Homo sapiens: one gene and its partners. The protein of the gene in region 1 purifies or fractionates together with the protein of each later gene. This does not show direct contact. Each region holds a gene or a part of one and is shown in the gene's direction. Other genes may lie near its edges. The genes, in order: HNF1B, HMBOX1, GFPT2, TMPO and UACA.

Region 1 (6,169 bases):
GGGAAGACTGCTTGAGGCCAGGAGTCTGAGACCAGCTTGGGCAACATAGCGAGACCCCGTCTCTACAAAAATAATTTTTTTTAATTAGTCAGATGTGGTGGCCTGCACATCCGTAGTCCCAGCTACTTGGGAGGCTAAGGCGAGAGGATGGCTTGAGCCCAGGAGGTCAAGGCTGCAGTGAGCTATGATCGTACTACTGCATTCCAGCCTGGGTCACAGAGCAAGACCTTGTTTGAAAAAAAGAAAAAGTATAACCCCCAAAGGAATTTGGGCCAACATCACTATCATCCTGACTAGGGGTAGATATTCTAAAAGACTAGTTAGTGTCCCTAAGCTTTCAGTCAGTCTCATTCCACAGCTGGGGAGACTAAATGATGAGGGAATTAAGCTGGGGCCCCACATGATCCCACTAGCAGTGACTTCCTGCTAGTACATTTGACAGGGACTCTCTCAGGTCTATAGTGGCATTGTTGGGCACCACTGAAAACAGAGCCCTAAGGTGGCCTAAGAATCCTCCAAGGTGAATGGGCCGAAATCAAAGGCCCCAGTGACACCATCAGTCCACAGTTAAACAAAGCCCAACACCACCTGCAGTTGGGATTGCAAGTCTTGGCGGGCTAGGGGCCCTAACCATTCCTCCCGATGGAGCAAAATGGAAATGAGCCTAAGACAGGTGGTAAGTTCCCTGCTGCTGGAGGCATATAGCCTGGAGGGCCACTTGGTGTGGGGTTGTAGAGGGGATTCAAACGTTAAGTAGTAGCCTGACTTGAACCTTGAGGATTTTGGATCCAGTTGTCCAAAGGAACAGGAAGGATGGCATGTAAATGATGGCACATCATTTACATCACAAAGGGAGGTGGTAGCCTTCCACTTTCTGTGACCTGTGGGAGTAATTACAGGAACTGAGAAAGAAAGTCATCAAGGTCGGGCACGGTGGCTCACACCTGTAATCCCTGCACTTTGGGAGGCTGAGGCAGGTGGATCACCTGAGGTCGGGAGTTTGAGACCAGCCTGCCCAACATGATGAAACCCCATCTCTACTAAAAATACAAAAAATTAGCTGGGCATGGTGCCGCACACCTATAATCCCAGCTACTCAGGAGGCTGAGGCAGGAGAATTGTTTGAACCCGGGAGGCGGAGATTGTAGTGAGCCGAGATCACACCACTGTACTCCAGCCTGGGCAACAAGAGGCAAACTCTGTCTCAAAAAAAAAAAAAAAAGATATTAAGATCCAGAACATAGGGACCCAGAGCTAGGAGATGAATGTATTACGTGTCTTTGCTCAGCAGAGTGCTTAGCCTCCATGTTTATTCATCTTTAAAATGGAATTAATCACTCCTGATGAGCCCTGCTTCATGCAGATGTGAAGACGAGGACAGCAAAGCTTTCTTCTTCGGTAATGTAGATATCAAATCTCATTAAACCATGTGGGCTAAGGCATCACCTCTGGGCCGAGCTGCTGGTTCTCATTCATTCCACAAAAATCTCCTGATGGTCACAGTATGCCTGGACTCAAGGAATTGGACAGACAGGGAGCATCATTTCCAGCTAATTAAACACTACTCCCAGACAGGTCCTGTGTTTGTAGTCTTTGAAATTATTTTGAGATCTAAAGCACATTTTCTTTTTCCAATACAAAGCTCCAGTTATATTTATTTCAAAGCATGTTCCAAAAGGTTTGGGGTTTTTCTAAAAACCTGACTTTATAATGTAGATACCTAGGATATAGGAAGAGGGAGGAGAGGTGGGGAGTGCTATCTACAGCCTCTGAATATTTTGTGCAAGTGTAAATTGTACCTTTGAGCAGTTCTCCCCTGGATGTGAGACTTGATTGAGCTCACCCACTTGACATCAAATACAGGAGTTCAGGATGCAGAGTGTTGCTTCATCTCTGAAGGCCAGTGAGCCAAAGGGGAAAAAATAATAATTTTCTTAAAACTATAGCTGGCTATGTTTGAGCTCCTTCAAAGAAAGGAAAAGGGTGGCTTTGCTGGAGCAACTGAGGTGGGCAGTAAGGGCCTGTGCTGAGGGCTCCCCATCTCCAGCTCCACATGCAGTGAGAGAAGGTTGCAAAGCTTAGTTAGACGAGGGGAATAAAGGTGTCTTCGTCCGTTGTCTGTCTGTCTGTCTGTCTGTCTGCTGAGTGAAGGCTACAGACCCTATCAAATCTACTCCTTTCTCTTTTCAGAATTCAACCAGACAGTCCAGAGTTCTGGAAATATGACAGACAAAAGCAGTCAGGATCAGCTGCTGTTTCTCTTTCCAGAGTTCAGTCAACAGAGCCATGGGCCTGGGCAGTCCGATGATGCCTGCTCTGAGCCCACCAACAAGAAGATGCGCCGCAACCGGTTCAAATGGGGGCCCGCGTCCCAGCAAATCTTGTACCAGGCCTACGATCGGCAAAAGAACCCCAGCAAGGAAGAGAGAGAGGCCTTAGTGGAGGAATGCAACAGGTAACACCACCAGAAGCTCACCTGGGCAGGTGGGCAAGTACACAGACCCAGGAACCCTCCCCTCGGTCCTGGGATATTGAGACACTAGTTATACAGATAAGTGTGGCTAAATCAGAGCTTCTCAAAGTATGTTCCACAGAACCCCAATATCAATTCATTAATCAGTAAGTCTGAGAATCAGCATATGGATACTTCCCCTTAGAGAGTCACAACATATATTAAAGGTTCCGAGAAGCCCTGCAGTCAAGAAACCCACTTAGCTTTGTTGAATTGGTTGTTAACTATGGAATCTTCGGTAGAGTACAAACAACCCCATGAATTATTCTTCCAGGGAAGATACTCTGGAGAATGCTAATTTAAAATATGATACTTGGGAAGCGAAATTGTGTGTTTGACCTCCCTGCAGGCCAGGGTAAAACTTTCCCTTAGCCACAGACTCTAGATCTGGCCTCTACCAATTGTCAGACATGCAGTGGTCCAAAAGGAAACTTGGCAGGAGAGTAAGAATTGGTCAGATCTGTTCAGTCCACTCTGCCCCCGCTGACTCAACAGAGTTCTTTTTACTTGTTAACTACCAGCCAGGCACGGTGGCTCACACTTATAATCCCAGCACTTTGGGAGGCCGAGGCGGGAGGATTGCTTGAGCCCAGGAGTTTGAGACCAGCCTGGGCAACATGGTGAAACCCTATCTCTATTTAAAAAAAAAACAAAAAAACAAAAAAACAACTCTGTGTTATTTTAAGTATTTATTTTTAAAATGTGGTCTTGCTATGTTGCCCAGCAGATCTTGAACTGGGCTTAAGCGATCCTCCTGCCTTGGCCTCCTAAATAGCTGGGATTACAGGCTCTAGCCACAGGGCCCAGCTATTTTTTTTTAAACGATTGGAAAGCCTTGGGAAATCTTTTTACTTCATTCCTGCCCTGTTCTCCCTGACTCCAGTATTGACTTTCTAAAACTTCAGCTCTTTGGTCTGGCCAAGGCCTGTGTGCGCTTTCTCTGTCTCTGGGCTGGGCTGGCCTTGGCTGTGGGAAGAATGCAGCCAGGGAGGTCAGGCTGGGAAGCAGGGAGGCCTGTATTGCCACTGAGTCCTCAGGCTGTGCTCCATACCCCGACTAATGAGATGCCTTGCAGCACCCAGTAGTGTCTAAGAATCTCTCGCACCTGGTTTTGAGGTTTCACCAGCCCTGATAAAGCTAGAGACTGGCCATCTCAATGCACCCTGCTTTGTACCCCACCCAGCCTGCCTTTTGGAGGGGATAAAGCATCTTGCTTCCTGGCACTCTTTCAGGGAGTTCAAGCCCCAAAAGACCAGAAATCCTCTCGAAGTGCTTTGAAGCCACTCAAGACAGAGCCAGCGAAGGGCTTTGCCTTTTATGTGGTGGGAAGAATGGCTAAATAAGGAAGCCCCATCTGGACCTTCCCCTGGACTGCCTGTCCCCGGCTTGCTCTCTTCTCCTCGAGAGCCACACCAGAGCCTAAGCCCCTGACTCCCAGGGCGGCATAGCCTGCTCTGTCCCTGCGTTCAGGCCCACTTCAGCCATCTTCATCAGATCACTCCATGGATTGGCCTTTTCTCTGCATAGGCCTCTCCTCCCCAGCCTTCCATTCTGCCCACGGCCCCTTCATACTCCCAACCAAGACTGCTGTGATTGTGTGTTTTTGGCCAAGCACCAACAAGTCCCCCCGCCCCCCCTCACTCACCATCTCCCCTCCATCCATTCCCAGGGCAGAATGTTTGCAGCGAGGGGTGTCCCCCTCCAAAGCCCACGGCCTGGGCTCCAACTTGGTCACTGAGGTCCGTGTCTACAACTGGTTTGCAAACCGCAGGAAGGAGGAGGCATTCCGGCAAAAGCTGGCCATGGACGCCTATAGCTCCAACCAGACTCACAGCCTGAACCCTCTGCTCTCCCACGGCTCCCCCCACCACCAGCCCAGCTCCTCTCCTCCAAACAAGCTGTCAGGTAAGCAAAGGTTGGGCCTCACTGCCTCGGCAACCCAACCATCCTGGTTCTTGCCACGGATCTTATCTGGTTTAAGGGTTTTCAGAGGAGCAAACGCTTTTGAGATGATCCTAGGGCCGCTCTCTCATTGCCAGAATATACTCCCCTGGAAATAATGTGTGGCTCTGATCAGTTTCCTCCAACTCCTGGTTCAGCCATTGCCCTGTGAGGGCTCACTCGGCTTCCAGGGAGCCCTTTACCCTATTTGTCTCCTTCCCTCTTCTTCTCCCTGTGTGGCTGCTGACTCAGCGGTCATTCTACACTGAGGAGGCTGCCTTATGGGTGGGCCAGATCCAAACCGCAGGCAAACGGGTCGTGATGGCGTGGCAACCCTCACTGTGTTGGAGGATGGCACTCCGGCCACCTCCTCCATCTCTGGCCATATCCTGCCCCTCGCTCGGTCCGGCTGCCTCAGGAGAAGCTCAGTAGCCTTTGGGGACGGCCACTCTGTTGGTGGCCTCTGCTTGTTGGCTTCCGTGTGTCATCAGGGTTGGTGGGGGTCAGTCACTTGAAATCTTTGCAGCAATGAGTTGGGAAAAACTGACCGAGTACCTGCTCCATCATGCTTGATTGAGTGCTCCTGTGTGCTGGGCCCTGGCCTGGATTAGAATGCCTCTGCTGTGGGCTTTGGGTTTGTCAGGATGGAATCCTACAGCCTCCTTGGGGGAAAGCACACCTCATGCTGAGCGCTGTGTTAGGCACAGGCTGGGATGGAGCACTTCTTCTGGTCCTTCATTCTTCTGGCAAAGCTGGCTTCCTAGAATGGATGTGCTCACTGGGGTCTGTGTGGTGCCCATGAGGACAAAGTGTAGCAGCCTCCTGCCTGCTCCAAGAAAAGGGCTTGCGAAAGGAAAGCCAAACACTGTTTCTAACTCAGGGGTGATTCTGAAACCTGTTGGCTCCCCTCACCTGTCGGTTGCCCTTCTGATGAGAAAGGCCTGAGGGCTGGGGGCTGACCCAAGTGTTGAGGGGACCAAAGCCACCAAGACAGGCTCGGAGCCATCAGCTGGGTGGTGTACAAGCATTTGTTCCATGCCTGCTGTGCCCTCCCATAGCACTGCCTCTTCCAGGGCCTCTGGGAGCCTGACAGTGCCCAGCATGAAGGTGGGGCCAGTGCTGGGGGTTTCTGTAGGTCCCACTCCCACAGAGGAGAGAGGCTCAGCCACACAGGAAGAAAGTCTTGGTTACTTAAGAGGCAGAGAAGCCCCTAGGCAAAGACTGGCCTGATTGCAGAGTAACTTCGCCCCTTTAGGGAAATTCAAAGCAGGGTTCTGAGGGTTGTGGCAAATGGCACATGGCTGGCACTGAGCAGTACCAGTGTGCTTGCCCACCACAGCGATCCACGGAGCTGAAGCTGGGAGCTACAGGGGGCGTGGTTGGGGCAAGGGGCATTACTGGGAAGACAATGGCCATTGTGTTGGGACCTGTGATCTCCACACCAAAGTCAGGGAGCCTGGAAGCCAAACAAAGGCCCAGCAGCCTTCTGACAAGCAAGGGCTGTGCTGAGGTCACCACGGGGTCGTTGGTTTAGGCATCCTGTGTGCTGACAGGAGACCCAGAGAGCTAGGGCTGGAGGGACAGGGAGCAGGGCAGAAAACACAGCCTGTGTACTCCTCTGACTGGAGTCTAGGAAGGGCGTGTCCCATGGGAAGTGGATACTCTGGGGTGCCCCTGAAGTCTGGATCTTTCTAAAAATCTTGTAATGTTAGAATT
Region 2 (6,169 bases), on another chromosome or scaffold:
TAGCTATTAGAAGAATGTCTTTTGTAGCTCTTTCTTTAGTATCTCTTTTAGGTTGGAAAATTGGGATATCTCTTAAATCTAGTCACCCAAACTTTTTTCTTTTAATGACATGAACTTCTTAAGCCATGTAATTTGACAGAATGTCCCACATGCTGGATTTTTCTATTTACTTTTATTATCAAATATCTAATTTCTTTATCTTCTGTATTTCTGTAAGCTGGAAGTTAGAATTAAAATCTGAAGTCAGGATTCATGCTGAATATTTTAGGCAAGATTACTTCATAGATTATTTAGGGAGGCACGTACTAATGGCAGCAATTTATTTTGAAATGCATCGGAAAATAAAATGGAATTGTATTTAGGGAAATGGATAGCTATGTGATAAAGTAAAATATGTGGTATGAGTATGGTTTTCACTTAAAAAATTCTTTCACTATTGTATGTTTGAAAATTTTTGCAATAAAACACTGGAGAAAAATACTTTGTAGGTAGTGTTTACCTAATATTGCCGCATATTAAGAGGCCTGTCAGCATTAGGAGGTTGTAGCACTATTCATATGCCAAGTGTGATGGTTTTGTTAAAATGGTGACCACCAGATCTTTTCTTTGCAGTTTGTGAATAATCTTTAGGGTGACACTTTGCCCCTGGATGAATATCCTTTCCTGCAACAGCTTTCACCGATGACCTTAGCATTCGTTGATGATTCTTGATTGAATCTGTTATTCTGATGGGGATTGCAAAATGGGATAATCAACTGGTAAGGCCAAATTCCCGCACTGGAGTTTCGGGGCTGGGCTCTAGTCCAGCCCTGAACTAGAAATAGGAAGGACGACTAAGGTGCAGCTCTAGGGCCACAATGGCATTGTTGCAGCTGATCTGATAGCCAGTTGTGGAATACTAACTACAGGAGTCCAGCTTTAGCACTGGGCTGATAGTGTTCTTCCAAAGCTGGTTTTTTTTTTAAATTATTGTTATTTATTTTAGCTTTTAGTCTTAATTTCCTATTTTAGTTTATCTTGAAACCAGTATTGGGAAATTAGAGGAAGGTAGAACTAGGGAATTGAAACCAGCAGCATTCATCTAGCTGATAATTAGGAGCTGATTTCTTTAAGTACATAGTGCCTCCTTTTAAGACGTTCCTCTAATTATATGCATTTGTTTTTCAGTAAGATTGCATTATTGTCACCTTTTAAAAAGTACTTTCTATTTTTTGTTTAAAAACCAAATCCTAACTACTGGTTTTCTCAGTCAAGTTTTTCTGTGGGACATAATTTAAAGGTAGCTAGAGATAAGAGGGTAAGTTCGTAATTGCCATTTGGTAGTTGTTGTTGCGTTAACAGCAATTGGGTATTAGCAACTGAAATTTGTTTGTCTTTTTCTTTGCATTTTGACATTTATTATAAAGGCAAATATCACATAGAATTCTTTCTCGATAAAAGTGATTTTGTTTTGTTGACTAAAATAACCTTTGATTTTAGCTAAAGAATTTGGAGCTACTATTATGTTTGGTTAAGATGAACTAAAATTATGTTAGCTTATAGGACAGCAGATCCTTCATTGCAAGTCATTTCAGACCTGATTGGAATCCACCCAGATGTCCCTCAGTTGAGAACTGGTTAAATAAATTAATGGCACATCTGTACAATGGAATCTTATGGAGCCATATAACTACTTTTTGAAGGCAGCTTTATATGAATTAAATTTATATGAGGTGATATGGAATTCATAAGTAAAAAAGGTACATAACAGTATCAAGGGCATATTTATGTAGGGGAACACACACACATACACATGTATATGCTTATCTAAGCATAGAAATCTCTGAAAAGCTGTGTTAGGAACTGGGAAGAATAGCTCTGTGGAGGGGAACTGAGTGACTGGGAGTACAGGGGTAAGGAGTTAACTACACAGCCTAATGTGTCTTTCTAAATTTCATACTATGTACTTGTATTATATATTTGAAAAATAAAGTGTAATAGGAAGGGGGAGACAGACCAAAAGAAATCAATCTGCCTTGTAAGATTAAAAAGAAAGAAAGAAAAGGAAGAAAAACTTAGGTTTATACAGTCCAGACCTGCTTTTGAGAAGCAGGTAGAAAATAAGTTGTCAGTGATTTTTATCAAGTAATTCTTTTATTTCATAATTTTTTTTTCTGTCTAGGAAAGATAGCTCTTTAGGGTAAATGTAAATAGTGTGATCCCTTTACATATATTCTGAGAAGAAAATGCAAAATTAAGAAAAGTCACAAAATGAAAAACTACTTTTTCTTTTTTCTTCTGTAAATTTAAGCATTTAGAAAACAAAAATGTTTGTATATTCTATGACTCTATTCCTGGGCGTTGGAGCATTTCTCTTTGTATACTTTGAGTGAAGTCCTTTTGTTGTTGTTGTTGAGACAGAGTCTAGCTCTGCCACCAGGCTGGAGTGCAGTGGCGCAATCTTGGCTCACTGCAACTTCTGCCTTTCGGGTTCAAGCAATTCTCCTGCCTCAGCCTCAGGAGTAGCTGGGATTACAGGCACGTGCCGCCACGCCCAGCTGATTTTTGTGTTTTTAGTAGAGATGGGGTTTCACCATGTTGGCCAGGCTGGTCTTGAACTCCTGACCTCGTGATCCACCCACCTCGGCTTTCCAAAGTGCTGGGATTATAGGCATGAGCCACCGCACCCAGCGGAAGTTCTTTTTTTCAACCTCTTCAGTCTGGATCCAGTTGTATATGGCTTTTGGTTTTTTGTAAGTTTCTCTTTAAGTGGACTCATCAAGAAAAATAATAGAATGGATATTTAGGTTAATTTTACTGATAACCCGATTGATATAGTGTAGTTCTCTGATAACAGACTCATCATCAGAATTTACCAGCATAAATGAAAGCCTGCCAAGGCATATTAATAAAATAGGCTGATGGAAACTAATCAAATACATTTTATCTTGTTTCTTATGAAAACACTTATAAGAAAATACCTATTTTTTAAAAAAAAGTGAGTGCTAAATTCAGGATGGTTGACATCAAAAGTCCCTTTATTTAATCAAATTAAGTTCACAGTCTTTTTCCCTTGTCTAATTTAAACATTACTATAGCAGACAGGGTTTGCTGAGTTCCTCTTGGCATGTGGTGCATATTCTGCATGCTTCTAAACAATTAAATAAAATTTGCCAAGAGGGTTATGCAGCAAATACATGAGATAAATGTCATCAGAAGAAACATCCAGTCCTTCACTTGCAGAGTGTTAGATCTCAGGGAAACGTGTGTGACATGGGGGAAGATGTGAAATTACTTTTGGAGAGGTTAGTTCCTATGGATGGCGTAGTAATGATGTGCTTATAGTCCCCTCACCCAGAGCTAACCCTGATCAGCAAGGACATTATGATATATGTAAAGAGAACACTTACCAAATTTTTATATGTCTTAACAAGTTATGAAAAGAGTTTTGGGTTTTTTTTTTCCTCATGGGTTTAGATTTGCTAGGTGAAGGTGCAAAATTTTGTTTTAATGGAAACTTAGATGGGGGGAAAAAAGATTTCTGTAAGGAAATAGACAACACACTTTTCCTGTTAGGACCTTAGCCAACCCAGAATTCCTGTATTTTACTTCAGAGGAGTTTAAAGGCTTAAATACATTGTTCCTGCATTCTAGTGTCTTTGTGTTTTTCTGTTAGAGTCAGTAATTTTGAACTCGCTCTTGCTTTTCATCCATTTCAACCAAAGCAAGATGAACTAAGGTTTCCAGAACAAATCTGTTATTAATAGAGTGTTTCCAGAGTACTTTTTTGTGCTGTTTTTAACTACTGCTACATTGAAAAAGAAAAAGGAGCCAGAAAAAAATCTGAAAAGTAATGTAACATTATGTTTTAAAGTAGGTATTTTGATGAATTTAAGATTATTCATTTTTCACCTTCTGTGTGTAAACTGTCTTGATTTCTTTTTTTTCCCCCACCCCGAGATGGAGTATCACTCTGTCGCCCAGGCTGGAGTGCAGTGGCACGATCTTGGCTCACTGCAACCTCTGCCTCCTGGGTTCAAGCGATTCTCCTGCCTCGGCCTCCTGAGTAGCTGGGATTACAGGCGTGTGCCACCACACCCAGCAAATTTTTGTATTTTTAGTACAGACAGGGTTTCACCATGTTGGTCAGGCTGGTCTCAAACTCCTGACCTCAGGTGTTCCGCCCGCCTCAGCCTCCTAAAGTGCTGGGATTACAGGCATGAGCCACCGCGCCCGGCCTTGATTTCTTTCAAAATAACCAGGCCACTACTTACTTTTCTGTCTTCTTTTTCTCCTTTTTTCTTCTCCCCTCTTCCTTTTCCTTCCTGCCCAGTTTTATTTCATCTGAATTTCCTTCAGTTCTTGAGACTGTCTTGACAATACTGAATATTACAAAGAAGCATAATATTAATAATAAACCCCAATACCAAGAAAGAACCATTATTATTAGTTGGCTTATTTCCTTCAACCTCTTGGTTAGGATTCTTTCTGTTCTGTGTTCTATTTGTACCCATTTACCACTCTGCTTACTAAGGAGCATGCCGCAATTATGGATGTGGCCTACTACCTGGAATTCACTGACCTATTGCCCACCCTCCATCCTGAAGCTCTTTCTTTCTTTACAAGGGTCAGCCCCTGGACAAGAGGTTGTATTCCCTTACTGAGTCTTATTTCTACCTTTATCTTGATCAGCCATGATAACCGGTTGGCTCTGTTTTAGTCCTTTTCACCCTTGCTATAGAATAACATTTATATAATTTTAATTAGGTAGATTCCAGAGCTCTTGCTGTGCTGTAATCCCTACTTGTTTTCAGAAAAGCACTATAAGACTGTGAAACCCTCCAGCCCCCAAATTCCTGCTTATGTCTAAACTTAGTTAACTTTCAATTAGGCCCAGACTGAATTCTCAGTTTATTTTGGCAGAATGAAACCCTTTTAAATTGTTTAAAGAAGGGTTTCAGTTTAGAATTTCATGTTGGGTAGAGCAGAAATGTTTTTAAACCAGGGGTTGGCAAACTTCATATAAAGGGCCAGACAGTAAATATTTTAGGTTTTGCAGGTTATATGATCTCTATCATAGCTACTCAGCTCTTCTGCTCCAGTGCATTCATAGCCATAGACAATCTGTAAATGAATGAGCATGAGCATGTTTCAATAAAACTTTATTTACAAAAATAGGCAGTGGGTATAATTTGCCAACTCTGTTTTAGGGTGGGCTGTAAATCTCTAAAGCATTATATGATGACAAACTTACTTGTTTAAGCAGAAATGTTAAGTAGTTAAATATTTACTTTCCATCACATGCTATAAGAAATCACATACATATTAAAGGCTGAAACACAAAATGAAAGATATAAAGATACTCAGTGATATTCAAGCCCATTGGCCATAATACAAAAGACTGACAAATTTGACTGTATTAAAATTAAGATCACAAAGCACACTATAAAAAACAAATGACAGACCAGAAAAAAATTGCATTCTGTATGACTAGCAATTGCTATGATTTCTCTGCACCCATAAGAAGAATAACCCCCTAAAAAAGGAACAACAGATAGAAATTCACAAGAAAAGATATAAATGGTCAATAAACAGGAAAAGATGCTCATTCTTATTAGTAGTGAAGTCTCTATATTAAAGGGAAATTTTTTGCTGCCAAATTTATACATTTGAATAATTAATAATAGTGTATTGGGGGATAAAGGGAAATAAACAACTGAGGATGATTGTGATAATTTTTATTAGTTATCTATTCTTATACAATAAATTATCCACAATTTAGCAGCTTAACACAACCAGCATTTATTATCTCATAGTTTTCATAGATCAGGAATCCAGGAATGGCTTAGCTGGTTGTTTCTGGCTCAGAGTTCTGTAGAGGTTGCTGTCCAGCTGTCAGCCTGGGCTGCAGTCATTGGGACTGGATGGTCCACTTGGAAACTCACTCATGTGGATGTGGACAGGTCCCAGGTCCTCACTGCCTGTTGGTCAGAGACATCAGTTCCTCACAACATGGGCCTCACCATCCACTGCCTGAGTGTCCTCACACGGCAGCTAGTTTTCCCTTGAGTGAATAAGAGAGAAAGCATCCAAGACAGATGTCATAGTGTCTTCTGTATTCTGATCCTTGAAGTGACATACCATCACTGCCACATGCTGTTGGTCGCACAGCCTAATCATGGTGCAGTGT
Region 3 (6,169 bases), on another chromosome or scaffold:
TGCCCCCTGCAGCATTAAAGATCCACGCCAGGAAAGAGAAAGCTGATGGGGCAGGGACAGGGTGCCAGGGCCACAGGGCTGCCCAGAGGGTGGGCAGAGAGCCGTGCAGGGTCCTGCATCTCGGACTTGCCCTTTCCTCGCTGTCAGCATGCCATGCACGGAGCAGATGCTCAGCCCAGGTGACGGGGACAGTGCTCCAGCTGAGGCTGCACTGGCCACCAAGACGAGGGCATTAACCGTGGCCCAGCTGGGCTGCCATCCTCTCCCATCTCCTCCCCACCACCCCCATTTGAAAGACAATGCTAGGCTGGCACAGTGGTCCACGCCTGTAATCCCAGCACTTTGGGAGGCCAAGGCAGTCAGATCATTTGAGGTCAGGAGTTCGAGACCAGCCTGGACAACATGGTAAAAGCCCATCTCTACCAAAAATTCAAAAACTAGCTGGGCGTGGTGGTGCACGCCTGTAATCCCAGCTACATGGGAGGCTGAGGCAGGAGAATCGCTTGAATCCAAGAGGAGGAGGTTGCAGTGAGCCAAGATCATGCCACTGCACTCCAGCCTGGGAGACAGAACGAGACTCCCATCTCAACGAAAAAAAAAAAAAAGAAAGAAAGAAAAAAAAAAGAAAGACAATGCCAGTTACAAGTGGTTACCGGAAACATTCAGAGTTGATTTCCTTGGTCTTGGTGGGGAGTGCAGGGCTGTCCTCACTGAGCTCCATCTCCTGCACCTGCCCCCTGGAGATTCTGACTCCTGTTAAAGAACAGGCAGGTGCTGCTTCTTGGAGTGCAGTAGAGGCAAGGCCTGGGGTGCACTGTCAGTCCCCAGATGACTCTGCGTCATGGGTGGGGGCTGAGCTGCGGTGGCTGAACGTGCTGGCGGGAGATGCACATTGCAGCTATGCCTCCGCATGAGTCTGCTGAAGGAAGAAGCGTTTAGGTGGCTGCTGGCACGAGCCCATGGTCCTCTGGTCACTGGGAGGCCGGCACTGCAGCTGTCTGCGCCTCCAGACTGGAGCCGCACTCCTTACAGTGTGGCCCTGACCTAAATCAGCAGTGCTAGCGGGGAGTCGAGAGATGATTTATTTGACTGTCTCACCATTTCAATGACGTGGATTTGTGGTAACTGAATAGAGATGGATCTACCTGAACACAGGAAAAAAATTAATTCAAATAACACCCCAGTTTGTGTGATTTTGCTTGGAACCACTCTTTAGAAGTTATTAATGGGCAAATGCTTAATCAGATAATTAACTGAAGGTGTAGCTAAGCTGAATACGATGCTGTCGTTATACACGTGGCTGGCTAGGGAGGAGCAGGGGGTGAGCTAGGCTGACTCCGACTTGTTTGTCCTAAGGGGTGGCTGTGCGTGGGACTGGAGAGAGACAACAGCAGTGCCCGGGGCTGGTGTGGGGACACAGAGGTTGTGTCCCGGGCTGGTGCATGCTCTGGATGGTAGCCAGGCCTCTCCCCAGGCCCTTGCTGGGTGTCCTCAGTGCTGTCAAGCACTCCAGGCATCTGTCTGCCTTGCAACCCTTGGCTCTCTGCCTTCCAGAGTCATCCTTCCCCTGGTTCCCCTTCTTCCCCTCTGGCTGATCTGCTCCAGCCCCATCTGCCCAGTGTGACTCTGATCTCACCTCCTGTTTCCAGAAAATTAAAGAGATAACCTACATGCACTCAGAAGGCATCCTGGCTGGGGAGCTGAAGCACGGGCCCCTGGCACTGATTGACAAGCAGATGCCCGTCATCATGGTCATTATGAAGGATCCTTGCTTCGCCAAATGCCAGAACGCCCTGCAGCAAGTCACGGCCCGCCAGGTGAGGGCTCTCCACTGGACTGGGCCAGCTCTCTCCTGCTTTTCCCCATGCATGCCCACCTCACCACTGTCTGCCAGTACCAGTGATGGATGGTCTGGCCAGTGAGTGGCTGTGACCACACACCCTCCCCCGGGCCGCCTGTGGGGAGTGCACACACTTGGAAAGGAGCTGGTCAGCCCGCAGCTGTCCCACACAGCTCTTTGGTGGGGCCCAGGGACCCACACTGCTGTGAGCAGCACCAGATCCTAGCCTGGAGCTCAGGGGAGGTACTCCTGGTGGACATCCCTGGGGCAGGGTTTCCCCAGGTTCTGCGGCCAAGCAGCTCCGATGGGAACTACCTGGAGTTAGGTCAGGTCTCATAGGGCAGGGGCACAGCTTTCCATAAGACTGCCCTCGATTCAGGCACCTGTTGCAAGCCAGGGGTCCACCCACACATCTGAGCAACTGACTATGAATCCAAGGATTCCCACTCTCCCCTGAAGTTCAGTAATTTTCTAGAACGACCCATAGAACTCAGGAGATGACTATATGATTACAGTTTTATTATAAAAGATATAAATCACAGCCAACCCAAAAGAAGAGACCCCTAGTTTGAGGGCCCCAGATGTGAAGCTTGTGTCCTCAGGATGTGTCACCCTCCCAGCACGTCACTGTGTGTCGCCCGGGAGCTCCCCTGAGCTGCTAGCTCCAGTGTCCAGAGTTTGTATTGTGGTTTTATTAAGTAGGCAGGATGGAGTGAACCATTGGCCATGTGATCAAACTCAGTCGCCAGCCCCACTTTTGTCCTTGGAGGTTGGGAGGTCAGACTGACAGGCTCATGTCTCAAAGCCCCAACCTTCTAATCATGTGGCTGGCCTTTCTAGCAGGGCCAGACGCCATCCTGGAACTATCTACAGGCCCACCACGAGTCGTCACCTTAGCATAAAGTTAGGTATAGTCCAAGGGACCTCCCATAAATAACAAAGATGCTTTTGTCACATGGGAAAGTCCAGAAGCCAGGAGCTCCCTTCCTGGAACCGGCCACAAAGACCAACCAAATGCTTTGTACACAGCAGCTGCCCTGAGGTAGGAGGGCAGAGTTCATGAAGTTTCGGGGAGGTGAAATCCAATGAGGTGCCCCATCCAGATGTTGCCACCTGGCTCAGCACAGAGGTCAGAGTGAGGGTATAAAACACAATGGCATCATTTCCCCACTTAAAACCCTCCCATACCTGCCTGTCAAGCCACAGAGACCCACAGTCCTGCGTTATCTGGCCCTTTCCTCCTGTTTCAGTGAGTTCCAGGCACTCCAGCTTTCCTTCTGCGTCCCACTCTCATTGCGCCCGCGCCCGCCTCCGGGCCTTTGCGCTGGCCGCTCCTGCTGTCTGGAATGCCCTTCCCACAGAATGCTCCGCCGAGGGTTGTCCCCTCATCATTTAGGGTTCAGTCCAGATGTCTCCTGTTTTTGAGAGAGCTTTGGAGACCTCACCAGTCTCCCAATGACATTATCCTGTTTTCTAGCCTTGGTGGCATTTCTTTGGAATTCATTTTTTTTTTTTTTTTGTGACGGAGTCTGGCTCTGTCGCCCAGGCTGGAGTGCAGTGGCGCCATCTCGGCTCACTGCAAGCTCCGCCTCCCAGGTTCACGCCATTCTCCTGCCTCAGCCTCCCCAGTAGCTGGGACTACAGGCCCCCGCCACCACACCCGGCTAATTTTTTGTATTTTTTAGTAGAGACAGGGTTTCACCATGTTAGCCAGGATGGTCTCGATCTCCTGACCTCGTGATCCACCCGCCTCAGCCTCCCAAAGTGTTGGGATTACAGGCGTGAGCCACCACGCCCGGCCTGGAATTCATCTTTATTTCTTGGTTTGCTTGTCTAGGTTTTTGTTTTCTACCACTAGACTATGAGCCCCGCTAGAGTTAGGAGTGAGTCTGCCCCGCTCTCGGCAAGGCACAAATGGGTGCCAAATGATGCAGCAGGATGGCAATCTCCTTACCAGGGAAGGGGAAGAAACCCCCAAAAAGCATCAGACACTTTATCCTTTCCAAGCATTTGTGTCCCACACATACCACCTCACCCATGACTCCAGCAAATGCAAAAGAGGACTGTTCTCATCACAGTAATGTAGCTTCCAGATACTCTGTATGCATCAGGGATAGCTTCTTTCAGAGAGGGTCTATTTTATGATGCTATTTCTCTGCTCTAGGGTCGCCCCATTATACTGTGCTCCAAGGACGATACTGAAAGTTCCAAGTTTGCGTATAAGACAATTGAGCTGCCCCACACTGTGGACTGCCTCCAGGGCATCCTGAGCGTGATTCCGCTGCAGCTGCTGTCCTTCCACCTGGCTGTTCTCCGAGGATATGACGTGCGTCTAAAAACTGCACCTAACAGCAGAGAGGAGAGACATAACCCCAGAGTTCCTTTCTGTTCTTTAAATACTTGGAGTAAATAGTCATAGAGTAAATAATTTTATTTAAAGTAGCTTTCTTTTTTTTTTTTTTGAGATTGAGTCTCGCTCTGTCGCCCAGGCTGGAGGGCAGTGGCACAACCTCGGCTCACTGCAAGCTCCACCTCCTGGGTTCAAGCGATTCTCCTGCCTCAGCCTCCCGAGTAGCTGGGACTACAAGCACCCGCCACCATGCCTGGCTAATTTTTTGTATTTTTTGTAGAGACGGGGTTTCACCGTGTTAGCCAGGATGACCTTGATCTGACCTCGTGATCCACCTGCCTCAGCCTCCCAAAGTGCTGGGATTACAGGTGTGAGCCACCGCACCCGGCCCAGTAGAAGCGTACTTATGAACCATTCCTACCTTTCCTTCCCACTCCACCCTAAACAAATAAGTCCCATGGAATTCATATATATTCTTGCAAGAAAAGTTAATTTTTAACAGTACACACCAAGTTACCTGTGTTTAAAAGCATGAACCTTATTCTTTAAATCATGTTAACAGATCATGACACACATCAGGTGCACAGTAAATGTTTATTGAGGGACTAAACCTTATACGGTTAAATGAGGCTTCTGGACTAAGGAATCTGCCTCCAAGACGCAGGTCTCTAGGTTGGTGACCATGGTGAACATCTGTCTCTTGTTTTTAAGTACTCTGAAAATTGTCTGTGAGAGGTAGCATGTTGCTGAGATCTTTGGGGTCCTGAACAGTCACTTTCTTTCATTTTAGGTTGACTTCCCCAGAAATCTGGCCAAGTCTGTAACTGTGGAATGAGGCTGAGACCGTGACAAGACCATCACCACCTTTCATCTGATTCCAGACCTGTCCCAACAGCAGGGATGCTACATGGGAAGAGAAGTGGACATCCCACATGTTCTGCGTGCTCCTGTAGAGCTTGACAGCTTCCACGTGCCTTCTACCCAAGTGCTTTTGCTTACAGCAGATACTGTTTCTCTGTGTCCTGAAGTCGCCAGAGGAGAAGGGAATCATTGTTTACACATGGGGATCAGAGCAGACTTCTCCACTACTGTGCAATAGAGATACAGCTCTCTTCAGAGTAACTGTGAACCTTTTATAACCAACACTAGAGTTAGTTTTAAAAGACAAGATATTTATAATGACGACTGTATAGCTTTTAAGTTATTTTTCTAGTATGTGGCTTTCTGTAGCCGTGGTAACGGCCAAACTGTTCATCCTAGCTACCCATGCTCTGTGTCCAGGCTTGCTCCTGGCAGGTGGCATTCATCTCAGATGTGAGCACAAGGCATTGGCCCTCTGGACTCCTTTCTCCTTTTCTTTCCTCTCTAGGCTGCTCCTGAATCCTGTTCTCTGACATCCGTGGAGCCCCTCCTGCATCCACCTATGCCTCCTATAAGTCCAGTTGAAATCTCAGCCTCCTTCAACATTTTCTTCTCGTGTGTGGCCCACATCCCTCCACTTCTCCAACTTCTGTTTAATCTGATCACGGCTCTTTTTAAGCCCTGGCAGCATTTTGGTCCCTGCTCCTTGCCCATAGTAAAACAGCTTGAAATATCCCATGCAAGAGAGTAGTTTCAAGTGGGCAACTCTGCTCTCTATTTAAAAGCGTGCACAATCAAAAGTACTATGCAATTTTAGGACAATAAAGAACATACAGTTTTTTTGTGTGTGTTTGCATTTTGTTAACCTCATTCTTTTTGTGTACTTTGAATTTTGAGGACTGTGCAGGAGCTCGGCAGTGTTTGGAGGGGCAGCCCTGTTTGTTAGTAACATTGGCCTCGTCCACACCTGAGACCTATGGGTTTCTAGTAGGAAAAGGAGGGCTGTTGTCCAGGATACAACAAATCCAAGAGATTTGGGACTCAGCAGAGGGGCCACTGAACCTGGAAGGGGTTGGGCAGAACCTGTAGACAGCATAGAGGGGTGAAACTCTCAAATT
Region 4 (6,169 bases), on another chromosome or scaffold:
GGGCGAGAGAGTTAAGAGACTCCACCTTGAAAAAGAAAAAAAAAAAAGAGTTAAGATTTTTTTTGAGACAGAGTCTTGCTCTATCGCCCAGGCTGGAGGGCAGTGGCATGATGTCGACTCACTGCAACCTCCGCCTCCCAGATTCAAGCAATTCTCCTGCCTCAGCTTCCCAGGTAGCTGGGATTACAGGCATGTGCCACCACACCCGGCTAATTTTTGCATTTTTAAAAGAGACGGGGTTTCACCGTGTTGGCCATGCTGGTCTCGAACTCCTGACTTCAAGTGATCCACCCACCTTGGTCTCCCAAAGTGCTGGGATTACAGGCATGAGCCACTGCACCTGGCCCAAAGAGATTTCTTGAAAACCTCTCAGGCGGGTTTGAAAAGTTGGAATTTCCTGGATGTTTTATTGATAGTAAATTTGAACATTCTCGTGGTAGTGGGGATTATGTACAAATAATTTGAACCTGATTGATTGTTTTTCCATGTTTTATTTTTATTTTAAGCATTATTTAGTTTTTCTGTACTACCTGACTGCACTTTTTGGAAAATTTGAGTAAGTCAGTAACATAGGATTAAGTTTGTTTGATTAAATCTTTTCTTGAAAGAAATAAGTCTTAGAACTCTTAGACCCTAGGCAACTATTTGGATATTATGGTGTGGGTTGCTTCCAGATATGAGCCTGACAGTTCTAGGTCAGTGCAATGTATGTGAATTAAAGCCTGCTAAAAGTACTCTCACTGTAACTCTCCACAGCCGTCTATTTAAGATTTCTCGTAAGTTGACATAATTGTTCTTATGAGCAGCTATTTTTTTGGTGAAGGTTTTTTGGCTTCTGATTATAGAATGATTAGCCATTAGCAGCTTTTTAAAAAGAATTTCTCATATCTTGCTTTATTTGAAGTATTTCAGGCCAGGTTCCATGGCTCACGCCCGTAATCCTAGGACTTTGGGAGGCTCAGGCGGGCATAACATTTGGGGTCAGGAGTTCAAGACCAGCCTGGCCAACATGCTGAAACCCCGTCTCTACTAAAAATACAAAAATTAGCCGGGCGTGGTGGTGCACACCTGTAATCCCAGCTACTCAGGAGGCTGAGGCAGGAGAATCACTTGGACCTTGGATGCAGAGGTTGCAGTGAGCCAAGATTGCGCCACTGCACTCCAGCCTGGATAAGAGTGAGGCACAGTCTCAAAAAAAAAAAAAAAAAAGATTTGATTTGAGCCTGACAATTCTAGGTCAGAACATTTTTATTGTTAAAAACAGTAATTCCAGTACATAGTCAAATCATGACTGATTTTTCCCCCTAATATTATTGGAAAGTGAGCATTCCATACAACTTGATAATTTTAGCCTTTTTCGTAAAATTTACTTTGATGTTGCCATTGTTTAATTAGCCATTTTTTTGTTCAGTACTCTGATGTTTTTTCTGTGATCACTGAGGCATTTGTCAGGCTGTTTGCCACAGCCTTAAAAGGTATCCGTACTTTTGCTTCCTTTTTATTTGTTCAACCTTGGAAATTTATAGTTTTTCCAGTAAATACTGCCTTTGTAGAAATTAATTTTAAAACTTTCAAATTTTCCCTCAAAGTTTGTTTCAAGTTATTTTGACTATTTTTAGTAAACTGGTGGTACAGAAGTTAATCTGGTGACTAAACTGTGTCACAGGTGATAATTTAACCATGAAGTCTGTCAGATTTCCTTCCTAAGTCATAAACTAGCTACTAAAATAACTGTGTTACAAGGAGTTTACAGTCCTGTCTCCTATCCTTGGGGTGGAGATTGGTTCCAGGACCCGGCCATGGATATCAAACTCTGGGGATGCTTTAGTAAGTCCCTTAATATAAAGTGGTGTAGTAACCTACACACATCCTCCCTTATACTTCAGATCATCTCTAGATTACTTATAACGCCTAATACAATGTAAGTGCTATGTAAATAGTTGTTATACTGTATTTTTGTTAGTGTTTTTATTGTCGTATTGTCTTTTTTTTCCCCAAGTATTTTTGATCTGTGGTTGGTTGAATTCACATATGTAGAACCCAACTGTATTCATTTGGGAGAATGGAGAGCCAACTGTATTCATTTGGCCTTCTTAAGTTCTCATATGCTGTTTAAAGAAAATCATTTCTGGCCGGGCGCAGTGGCTCATGCCTGTAATCCCAGCACTTTGGGAGGCTGAGGTGGGCAGATAACGAGGTCAAGAGATCGAGACCATTCTGGCCAACATGTTGAAACCCCGTCTCTACTAAAAGTACAAAAATTAGCTGGGCGTGGTGGCGCACACCTGTACTCTCAGCTACTCGGGAGGCTGAGGCAGGAGAATCGCTTGAACCCGGGAGTCGGAGGTTGCAGTGAGCCAAGATTGCACCGCTGCGCTCCAGCCTGGCAACAGAGCGAGACTCCACCTCCAAAAAAAAAAGAAAAAGAAAAGAAAATCATTTCTATATATGTATCTAAGTGTAAGCCTGTATGGTAAAGTCTTAAACTTTCCTGGATTAATTTAAATTTTTAAGGATTATCAAAAAGTTAGTAAGTAGCATTCATGATCATTTAGATGAAAAATGTTAAGCCCAGTCTGGCTTTACTTTCCATGGTTCATGCTGATCTGTTTCCGTTGCCATTGGAGTTATATGCTTTAAGAAATGAAATATAATTTTTGGTTATTTAGGCTGTGTGCAGTGGTTTACAACTGTAATCCTAACACTTTGGGAGGCCAAGGTGGGCTGATCACTTGAGTCCAGGAGTTTGAGACCAGCCTGGGCAACATGGCAAAAACCCCATCTCTACAAAAAAAAAAAAAAACAAAAAAAAAAAACCACAGGCAAAAAGCCAAGGGTGGTGGTGCGCACCTGTAGTCCCAGCTATTTGGGAGACTGAGGTGGGAGGATCGCTTCAGCCTGGGAGGTGGGGGTTGCAGTGAACTGAGATGGAGCCACTGTACTCCAGCCCGGGTGACATAGCTAGACCCTGTATCATTAAAAAAAAAAAAAAAAAGGTTATTTAAAAGAAAATGTTACCCAAAGTCAGTTTTACTTTTAGTTGCTCTTTTGCATTTTTGATGCCATTACTATCTCTTTTAGATAGGTAATCCAAAATGGACTATTTTAACAACAATGTCTTTAAGTTACTTGCTTGGCTGTGCGGTTTGTATGATTACAGTTCAACTTAGAAAGTGTTCTCCAATAATGAGTTGCTCTTAATTTAATGGAATTGCTAAGGCCTAATATTACTATAAACCAATTTGGTAGTGAGTTTGCATGTTTATGTTATACAGGTTATTATCTAGTAAGTGAACACTTTAATTCATATGGAAATGATTACTGGACTTTGTTTACAGAAAGCCACAAAAAAAACTGATAAACCCAGACAAGAAGATAAAGATGATCTAGATGTAACAGAGCTCACTAATGAAGATCTTTTGGATCAGCTTGTGAAATACGGAGTGAATCCTGGTCCTATTGTGGGTAAGTTGATAAAATTTCAAATACAGTATCTTTTCTCTGAAGCAGGACCCCAAATTATTTTCTCCTTTTTGTTTAGCAGTTTAGGTTCCAAGGACTGGTTTGTCATTAATCATTTGTTATCAGCAGAACCTGTGTTTCTTTGACTGTAAATGAGTGAAATAAAATGAGAGGATTGAATTAGATAATCTCCAAAATTACCTCTATTGTTGAGATTGTTTTATATGGTGCTTATATCGTACTTTTTTTTTTTTTTTTTGGTTTTGTTTTGTTTTTTGTTTTTTTGAGACGGAGTCTTGCTCTGTCGCCCAGGCTGTAGTGCAGTGACGCGATCTCGGCTCCCTGCAAGCTCTGCCTCCCGGGTTCATGCCATTCTCCTGCCTCAGCCTCCTGAGTAGCTGGGACTACAGGCGCCCGCTGCCACGCCTGGCTAATTTTTTGTATTTTTCAGTAGAGATGGGATTTCACCGTGTTAGCAAGGATGGTCTCGATCTTCTGACCTTGTGATCCGCCTGCCTCGGCCTCCCAAAGTGCTGGGATTACAGGTGTGAGCCACCGTGCCTGGCCACTTATATCGTACTTCTGCTGAGACGTGGGTCTTGTATGACAATTGAGGAAAATCTGAGGTAACATAGCTGGGCAAATTTGCCCAAATAAATGAGTTAATGGCCGGGCGCAGTAGCTCACACCTGTAATCCCAACACTTTGGGAGGCCAAGATGGGAGGATTGCTTGTGCCCAGGAGTTGAAGAACAGCATGAGCAACATAGGGAGATCCCATCTCTGCAGAAAATTTTAAAATTAGCAGGGTGTGGTGTCACAAATCTATTGTCCCAGCTACTTAGGAGGCTGAGGCAGGAGGATTGCTTGAGATGGTGGGGGGAAGTCAAAGTTGCAGTGAGCCGTGATGGCTACTGTACTTCAGCCAGGGGCAGTGGAGCAAGACCCTGTCTCAAAAAAAATAAATAAATAAGGGAAAAAGAAAAAGTGAGTTAGTGACAGACTTCTTCTTAATGAAGTTATTAAATTCCTAGCCTAGTACCCTATTTTTTTTTTTTTTTTGAGACGGGGTTTCGCTCTTGTTGCCCAGGCTAGAGTACAATGGTGTGATCTTGGCTCACTGCAACCTCTGCCTCCCAGGTTCAAGCAGTTCTCCAGCCTCAGCTTCCCGAATAGCTGGGATTACAGGCACCTGCCACCATGCCCGGCTAATTTTTATATTTTTAGTAGAGATGGGGTTTTGCCATGTTGGCCAGGCTGGTCTGAAACTCCCGACCTCAGGTGATCCCACCCACCTCAGGCTCCCAAAGTGCTGGGATTACAGGTGTGAGCCACCGCGCTGAGCCCCTTTTTCATTTATCATTAAAAGTACCCTTTTGAAAGTCCTATCTTGATTGGAATTGAGGAATTATACCCTTAAAAAACAAAAACCTAGGACTAAATACACTGGATTTCCATCGTTGGATTACTTTTAGGTGATGAAGATTTTGCAGTGTTGATTATGCCTTAGTTTTGGAGGGTCTTAGCAATAACCTCAAGATGAGAAAATTCCATTTTATTATTATTTTTTTTTTTGACAAGGTCTTTGCTCTGTTGTCCACGCTGGAGTGCAGTGGCACAGTCATGGCTTACTGCAGCCTCAGCTTAGGCTCAAGCAGTCCCACCTCAGCCTCTCAAGTAGCTGGGAACACAGGCACGTGCCACCATTCCCGGCTAATTTTTGTAGTTTTTGTAGGGATGGGGGCACACTATATTGCCCAGGGTGGTCTTGAACTCCTGGGCTCAAGCAGTCCTCCCACTTAGGCCTCCCTAAGTCCTAGGATTACAGGCATGAGTCACTGCATCTGGTCTTGATCTTCTAAGTTACCTAAAATTGTGGACGCTAGAGATTTGGTAGGTTTTGCTATAGGTATAGTTGCAAATAAAGATTTAGAATATTTTGTTTTAATGTATAAGCTGCTTCCAAATAATCATAAGCTTATTCATATACAAGTACCAACAGATATATAACACTTTTAAAAAATGTTTTTGTTTAAAGTTCTAAAAGGCCTGGGCATGGTAGTTCATGCCTGTAATCCCAACACTTTGGGAGGCCAAGGTGGTGGAATTGCTTGAGTTCAGGAGTTGAAGAGCAGCCTGGACAACATAGTGAAACCTTGTCTCTATTTAAAAAAAAAAAAGTAGCCAGGCATGTAGTGCACACTTGTAGTCCTAGCTACTCAGGAGGCAAAGGTGGGAGGATTGCTTAAGCCCACAAGTTCAGGGTTGCAGTGAGCTATGATCGCACCACTGCAGTGCAGCCTGGGCAACAGAGCAAGACCTTGTCTCAAAAAAAAAAAAAGAAATTCCAAAAGGGAGACACTGAAAAATGTGTGTTATAATATCAGCCTACATTAAATTATATGTTGATGTATGACCTGTTCATCTTAAGGCTATTTATATAACATTTCTGGACACATGTTGCTTCTAAAAAATATCCATTATCATTTTGCTCATCTTACCAGGAGTTAAGGAAAGATAATACAGTTAATGTAAAACAAAATCTATTTTGGTTTTAAACTGTCACTGATGTTCAAATGTATTAAGAATTTGTAATCAATTTTGCTTTGTGATATGTGTTTTCCATAAAAGGTCATTTTAACTGCAAAGTTGTTATATTTAAATCTGATTTATAGAACTTTTCTTTTCCCCATAACTGAATACAGGCA
Region 5 (6,169 bases), on another chromosome or scaffold:
CACTCATGGTCATTTTAAAACTGAATTCTTTCTATCTTGTTTCTCCACTTACCTGTGAGTATCTTCCTTAACTGCAAGGTTGAAGCAGAGTTGTGGTCGTAGCCGTATTCTAGCTAGCAGGAAGGAGGAGAGAGCCTAGTGGAATACATGCCCAAAGTCTGGAACTCAGACTTGGAAGTAGTAGATTATTCTCCATTCATATTCTACTGATAGGAGCAAAATCAATTGGCTATATTTATCTGCAAGGGAGGCTCAGAAATAAACTCTCTAGGTGACTAGTCATATTCCGAAACCTACTCTATAGTAGAAGAAGAGGAGAACAAATTTTGGTAAAATACTGCATTTTCTGCTACAGTTCAACTCTCTGGCCTTCCAAATATCTCCAAAGCCCCTACTTCCCACATACTCCCAAAGGAGAGGATATATAAACAAACTCATTTACTTCATCTAGCTCAAAGTCTAGGATTTCTGGGTGGTTTGCAGTTTTCTCTTTTTGGCTTTAAGCGGTTCTTCATGATCTAGTAATCTGTAAACTCTGGAATTTATTATGCTTTACATTTTTAAATTCTCATTTATAATTGGACGTAAAGGGTCGCTAATTTTACAGTTCCTGAATTAATGTTTTCAGGTTCAGTTTATCTTTTTCTTAAAGCTGATGATACATTTTATATAAAAGATTTGCTGGATTAGAGACGAAAAGTGAAAATTTACTTGATTTTCTTATGTTTGGTTTAATTCTATTATTTCACCAATAAAAAAAAGAATGCTCACTTTGTCAGTACTTTTTGTGCTTATAATGTATGTCAACTCATAAGGCTTAAAAAATTCATGGGGATTGTAAACATAATCCTACTTTATGAATTTAACAATAATTTTTCCTAATATAAATATGAACTATAGTGTTAGTCAAAGAAGCATAATGTGATTTTATAATTATTAGCAAAATGACCTTACTTTGCATAAAGGTAGACATTGCAATCTCTGCTTTTATGAGAAATATGAATTGTATGATTCATACTTTACTTACTGTGACTATTCTATAAAAAATGGATATGATTCTTTAAAAAAACTGAGCCAACACTTCAAGGATCAAGTCAGTTATAGCCATGTTTAAAAATATACTGTAAGTACAAAATTTAGCTTTGATTTTTATTGTCTGTGCTTATCCTTAGAATAGTAGTGTGTTCTTGTCTTCTACAAGGTTGACGTTATTCCTTGGTCCTAATAAATTGTAGACAATTTATAATCTTGTCTAATCCATTTTCAGATGAAAAATTGTGCTTATAATGCTAAACTAAGAGTGAAGGACGTGAAGCTTGGTAATTTAGAAATTGAAAAACTTATTCCTTATATGGACCTAGAAAAACACTATGTGTCTTACCAACAGATGTTCACCATTTATCATTTTCTTTTGTTCCTTAAAGCAATGGCAGATTGTCCTTCTAGCATACAGCTGCTTTGTGACCATGGGGCCTCTGTGAATGCCAAAGATGTAGTAAGTTAGTTTATGTTTATTCTCATTTCAACTCATGCATTCTAACTTCTACATTTTGGGAGATCTGTTGTCTTAATGCTGTTTTATTTTTCCTGTTGCTTAGGACGGGCGGACACCACTTGTTCTGGCTACTCAGATGAGTAGGCCAACAATATGTCAACTGCTGATAGATAGAGGAGCGGATGTTAATTCCAGAGACAAACAAAACAGGTAATTCTTTTATCATGGCTCCCAGATACCAGCTGGATACACAGGGATGGAAAGGCCAAGTCAAAGCAGCAGCTCTGTTCTCTGACTTGGCCTTTCTTTCCTGTGGGTTCTCCCCTTCCCTGGCTTGCTTTTCCTTGGAATTAACATCTACTTGTCAGTTTTCTTCAGAGTCTGCTGAAGAAAGAAGGAGAGGGAAATAGAGGAAGATGACAGGGTTAATGTGAATAAAAGCAGTGATTAGGCCTTATGTTTGGATCAAAGAACTGAAGGAGAGAGGAATTACATCCCAGGTGTTTTAAGCTTAAAAAACTCTTTAATGAAATGGGTGCAAGTAAGATACATAGGAGAAGAATTTAAAAAGTACATCTGTAGTTACTTCTTCATTAGTGAATCTTTTGAGTAAAGTGGTTCTTGAGTGTTCTGGAACTTGACATGTGTCAGTATAGATTTTCTCAAGGTGTTTTCTCTCCTTACTCTGCCAGGGTACAGTGCCATCTCCTACTCTGAACCTGTCCATTTCTGTACTGCAGAGGTCCCTTGCTTTATTTTTGCTTCTGTATTTGATACTATTTTAGTTGGTGTGCTCTAATAATTTCTATCCAGAATTCTCCCTATCTCTGTCTGTAGGTCTAATGTATCATGGTGCTTGTTGTATTACAATTCTGAAGTTTATGGTCACAAAGTATCTGAAACACACCCCTTCCATTTAATTCAAGTATTACAATAAATTAAACTAAAATTTCTGGGATTTTTGTAGTTACTAGTAAAAATTTTGGTTTCTTTTGACTTAATTTTATTCTTCCAAACATGTATTCTATTGTTTGTAGTTTATTAGAAGTATAAAAGTATAAAAAATAGTCTTTAGTTGTCAGATTTTATAGCTGTAATTGTTTTCTTTATGCATCTCAAAGGAGGAAATTCTGTACCTAATGCTAAATGACGAGTTAATGGGTGCAGCACACCAGCATGATGCATGTATACATATGTAACTAACCTGCACATTGTGCACATGTACCCTAAAACTTAAAGTATAAAAAAAAAAAAAAAAAAAAAAAGAACCCTGGCTTCTACAACTCCCCTTATCTTAACTCAAGCATTTCTTTATATTGACTTCAATTCTCCAGACAAAGCTTAATGCTTTCAATCAATTCCCAATCAGGAAATCTTTGACTTGGAAGCCCCTACTTTGAAATGTCCTGACATTCTGAGCTAAACCAATGTATACCTTATATGTATTGATTTATACCTTTGCCTGTAACTTTTGTCTCCCTAAAATGTATAAAACCAAGTTGTAACTCAACCACCTCCGGCACCCATTCTCAGGACCTCCTGAGGCTGTGTCATGGGCCATGGTTGCTAACATTTGGCTCAGAATAAACCTCTTTAAATATTAAAAAAAAAAAAAAAAGATGTGATTAAGAAGTGGCTTTTTAATATTACTTTGTTTTTGTGGATACTATCATCTGATTCCAAGCATGATGAAGAAAATTGGATTTTAAAATTAAATTTTACGGCTGGGCGCGGATCACTTGAGGTCAGGAGTTCAAGACCAGCCTGGCCAACATGGCGAAACCACATCTCTACCAAAAATACAAAAATTAGCTAGGTGTGGTGGTGCGTGCCTGTAATCCCAGCTACTCAGGAGGCTGAGGCAGGAGAATTCCTTGAACCCAGGAGGCGGAGGTTGCAGTGAGCTGAGATCATGCCACTGCGCTGGCAACAGAGCGAGACTCTTGTCTCAAAAAAAAAAAAGTTAAATTTAATTTTAGGATCACAGAGGGATAATCTGGTTGATCTACATACAGTGCTTTATATTTTTTATAGCTCTCACATTTTTCAAAGCACTTTATCTATGTTTTTTCATTGGGCATTCACAAAAAGCCAATGAAGCAGGGCAGTGTATATTGTATAGACTAAATAGCATATGGTTTTCAACATAATTTATAACCTTAGTTTCTAATACTCTATATTCATTTCTTTTTTTCCTGTTTTATATGTAGCATTTTTTAAATAACAAAAACTTTGTTAATGCCTGTTTTGTACAGAATTTCTTATCAGCAACTACAGGGGAGTTGGGGGACAAGGCTTGAATATGAGAAACACAGCATACATAGCAGAGAAAAGGCAAGAGTCAGTTTCCTTAAGAGATCCAATATTCACAATTGAAGACAGAGTTAGATATAGGATATGTCATTTCATTTCATTACGTGTTGGTTAGCCCCATCCTAAAAAATAGAGGATTAGACAAAATAATTTCTAGGGTCCTTCTAGATTTTCATGACAATTATTTTGTTGCATGATTAGTATTTGCTGATGTACTGTGAGATGTTTGAGTGCCAGTGGTTCTATTGCAATAGAATAAAGCAATGATCCATGTTGCATGGCGTTAGTTGTAGTCTGAAGATGTGAAGGTCTTCAGGTAGAAGAATCAAGGTTCTTCTAAGCAGGAACATCAGGAATGGAATCTGATACTTCTCTTGGAGGAGAAGGGATTCTTAGGGGAGGTTTGCATGATGTGGTTCAGTTCATGAAGGGACTGAAAAAGTTGGGTTTTGATCACATGGGGTGACAGTATCAGTTGTGGAAAATTTTTGTGGTGATTATTTACGTGTAGGACATTGAAGAAGTGGAATAAATGAGGTTGGTTTGGTAGTAGAAGTAATTAAAGGATATAAGGATATAGAAGACAAAGCAAATGTTTTTATAAATGCAATGAATATAAAGTAAAATCTATATCTGTAACAGGCATGACTTCTTAAAGTAGTGTCTATTCTTCAAGAAGGGAGCATGTCTTAGTGTTCAAGTAAGTGTTCAAGTAGTGTTGAACACTTACTTGAACTTAGTGTTCAAGTAGAACTACAGTTTATAAGAAGCAAAACATTCCTTACTGATAAACAGTATTGGTTCATCTCCCTCTACAACATGGATTTGCTTACTTACATTATAGTCACTTGCTTTGAGGCAGTGTGTGTTGCATATATAATCTAGTTTATCCAGTGAACACTAAGACAGTGTTCAACAATAGGGCAGAATATTTCTGCAATATTTCCTTGGAGTTTTCTCAGTCTTTTGCTCTTCCATTTTTCCATTTAGAACTGCCCTCATGCTAGGTTGCGAATATGGTTGCAGAGATGCAGTAGAAGTCTTAATTAAAAATGGTGCTGATATAAGCTTGCTGGATGCGCTTGGCCATGATAGTTCTTACTATGCAAGAATTGGTGACAATCTGGACATTCTAACCTTGTTGAAGACTGCATCGGAAAATACCAACAAAGGTATCAGCAGTTTTCTGTAACTAGAAAAGTCCACATTAACAAAGAGCCACTTTTTAAAAGACTTAGGTAGTAGAACTACAGTTTATAAGAAGCAAAACATTCCTTACTGATAAACAGTATTGGTTCATCTCCCTCTACAACATGGATTTGCTTACTTACATTATGGTCACTTGCTTTGAGGCAGTGTGTGTTGCATATATAATCTAGTTTATCCAGTGAACACTAAGACACTGGAATAACTTCAGAACTGAGAAGGAAGAGTCAAGTGTTTTACTAAGTTTTTTTTTTTTTTTGATGAAGAGGGGTGAACCTCCCAACTTTTTATACTTACGAAGTTTTAAAGAATCATTGTTTAAACATGTATGTAAAATAGTCAGCTGATATTTACCAAATGCCTATGCCATGATTTTTTATGTTTTTTTTAAAAAAAACAGGAACATACAGAAAAGCACAATGAATAGTCACTCATTACCACTGAGAAGCCTCTGTTAACATTTTGAGAAATATCCTTCTAGTCTTTTCCCATTAAATTGAATTCACTGTAAATCTGAATTGTAGCTTACTTTTTTATGTAACCTATTTTGAAGGCCTTTCCCTCAAAAATAGTTTTTCTATAGTATGATTTTTGTTGGTGTATGAGATTCCATTTATTTAAGTTTCATTTAATAAAGCAGTTTTCTACATGTAGTGTTTAAGCTATTTATAATTATTCATTAATACACAAAGGTTATGACTGTCCTTATGCATAAATATTTTAGTATATTTTTATTACCCTTTAGGGTCGGTTCCTAGAAATTGAATCACTGAGTTTCAGGGCATGCACATTTCTTTAAGCCTTTGGTCTATGTTGGCAAATTGCCTTCGAATTTAGGAGCTTTTTAAATTTTCTTCCCCTCTTTTTTTTTAGATATGGGGTCTCCCTTTGTTGCCCAGGCTAGAGTATAGTGGTGCCATCATAGCTCACTGCAATCTCAAACTCCTGGGCTCAAGTTATCTTCCTGCCTCAGCCTCATGAGTAGCTGGGACTACAGGCATGTACCACCATGGCCAGCTAATTTTTTATATTTTTTTTGTAGAGATGGGGTCTTGCTATGTTGCCCAGGCTGGTCTTGAACTCCTAGCCTCAAGTGATCCTCCTGCCCCAGCCTCCCAAAGTGCTGGGATTACAGGTGTGAGCCACCATACCCAG

The links.
Region 2: the proteins of HNF1B (region 1) and HMBOX1 purify together in Homo sapiens (affinity purification with mass spectrometry, with the first as the bait; one large-scale study listed by BioGRID). This does not show direct contact.
Region 3: the proteins of HNF1B (region 1) and GFPT2 purify together in Homo sapiens (affinity purification with mass spectrometry; one large-scale study listed by BioGRID and IntAct). This does not show direct contact.
Region 4: the proteins of HNF1B (region 1) and TMPO purify together in Homo sapiens (affinity purification with mass spectrometry, with the first as the bait; one large-scale study listed by BioGRID). This does not show direct contact.
Region 5: the proteins of HNF1B (region 1) and UACA purify together in Homo sapiens (affinity purification with mass spectrometry, with the first as the bait; one large-scale study listed by BioGRID). This does not show direct contact.

Annotation. Positions count from the first base shown.
Region 1 is NC_000017.11:37,729,843-37,736,011, reverse strand, and holds part of HNF1B (hepatocyte nuclear factor 1-beta), read left to right. Parts: intron 1-2,190; coding exon 2,191-2,455; intron 2,456-4,181; coding exon 4,182-4,417; intron 4,418-6,169. UniProt on the Homo sapiens protein: Transcription factor that binds to the inverted palindrome 5'-GTTAATNATTAAC-3'. Binds to the FPC element in the cAMP regulatory unit of the PLAU gene. Transcriptional activity is increased by coactivator PCBD1.
Region 2 is NC_000008.11:29,010,762-29,016,930, forward strand, and holds part of HMBOX1 (homeobox-containing protein 1), read left to right. Parts: intron 1-612; coding exon of another isoform or gene 613-623; exon of another isoform or gene 624-757; intron 758-4,273; exon of another isoform or gene 4,274-4,361; intron 4,362-6,169. UniProt on the Homo sapiens protein: Binds directly to 5'-TTAGGG-3' repeats in telomeric DNA. Associates with the telomerase complex at sites of active telomere processing and positively regulates telomere elongation.
Region 3 is NC_000005.10:180,300,420-180,306,588, reverse strand, and holds the end of GFPT2 (glutamine--fructose-6-phosphate aminotransferase [isomerizing] 2), read left to right. Parts: intron 1-1,649; coding exon 1,650-1,817; intron 1,818-4,004; coding exon 4,005-4,166; intron 4,167-4,980; coding exon 4,981-5,025; 3' UTR 5,026-5,891; downstream 5,892-6,169. UniProt on the Homo sapiens protein: Controls the flux of glucose into the hexosamine pathway. Most likely involved in regulating the availability of precursors for N- and O-linked glycosylation of proteins.
Region 4 is NC_000012.12:98,524,548-98,530,716, forward strand, and holds part of TMPO (thymopoietin), read left to right. Parts: intron 1-3,338; coding exon 3,339-3,465; intron 3,466-6,169. UniProt on the Homo sapiens protein: May help direct the assembly of the nuclear lamina and thereby help maintain the structural organization of the nuclear envelope. Possible receptor for attachment of lamin filaments to the inner nuclear membrane.
Region 5 is NC_000015.10:70,683,076-70,689,244, reverse strand, and holds part of UACA (uveal autoantigen with coiled-coil domains and ankyrin repeats), read left to right. Parts: intron 1-1,424; coding exon 1,425-1,495; intron 1,496-1,598; coding exon 1,599-1,705; intron 1,706-4,798; coding exon 4,799-4,980; intron 4,981-6,169. UniProt on the Homo sapiens protein: Regulates APAF1 expression and plays an important role in the regulation of stress-induced apoptosis. Promotes apoptosis by regulating three pathways, apoptosome up-regulation, LGALS3/galectin-3 down-regulation and NF-kappa-B inactivation.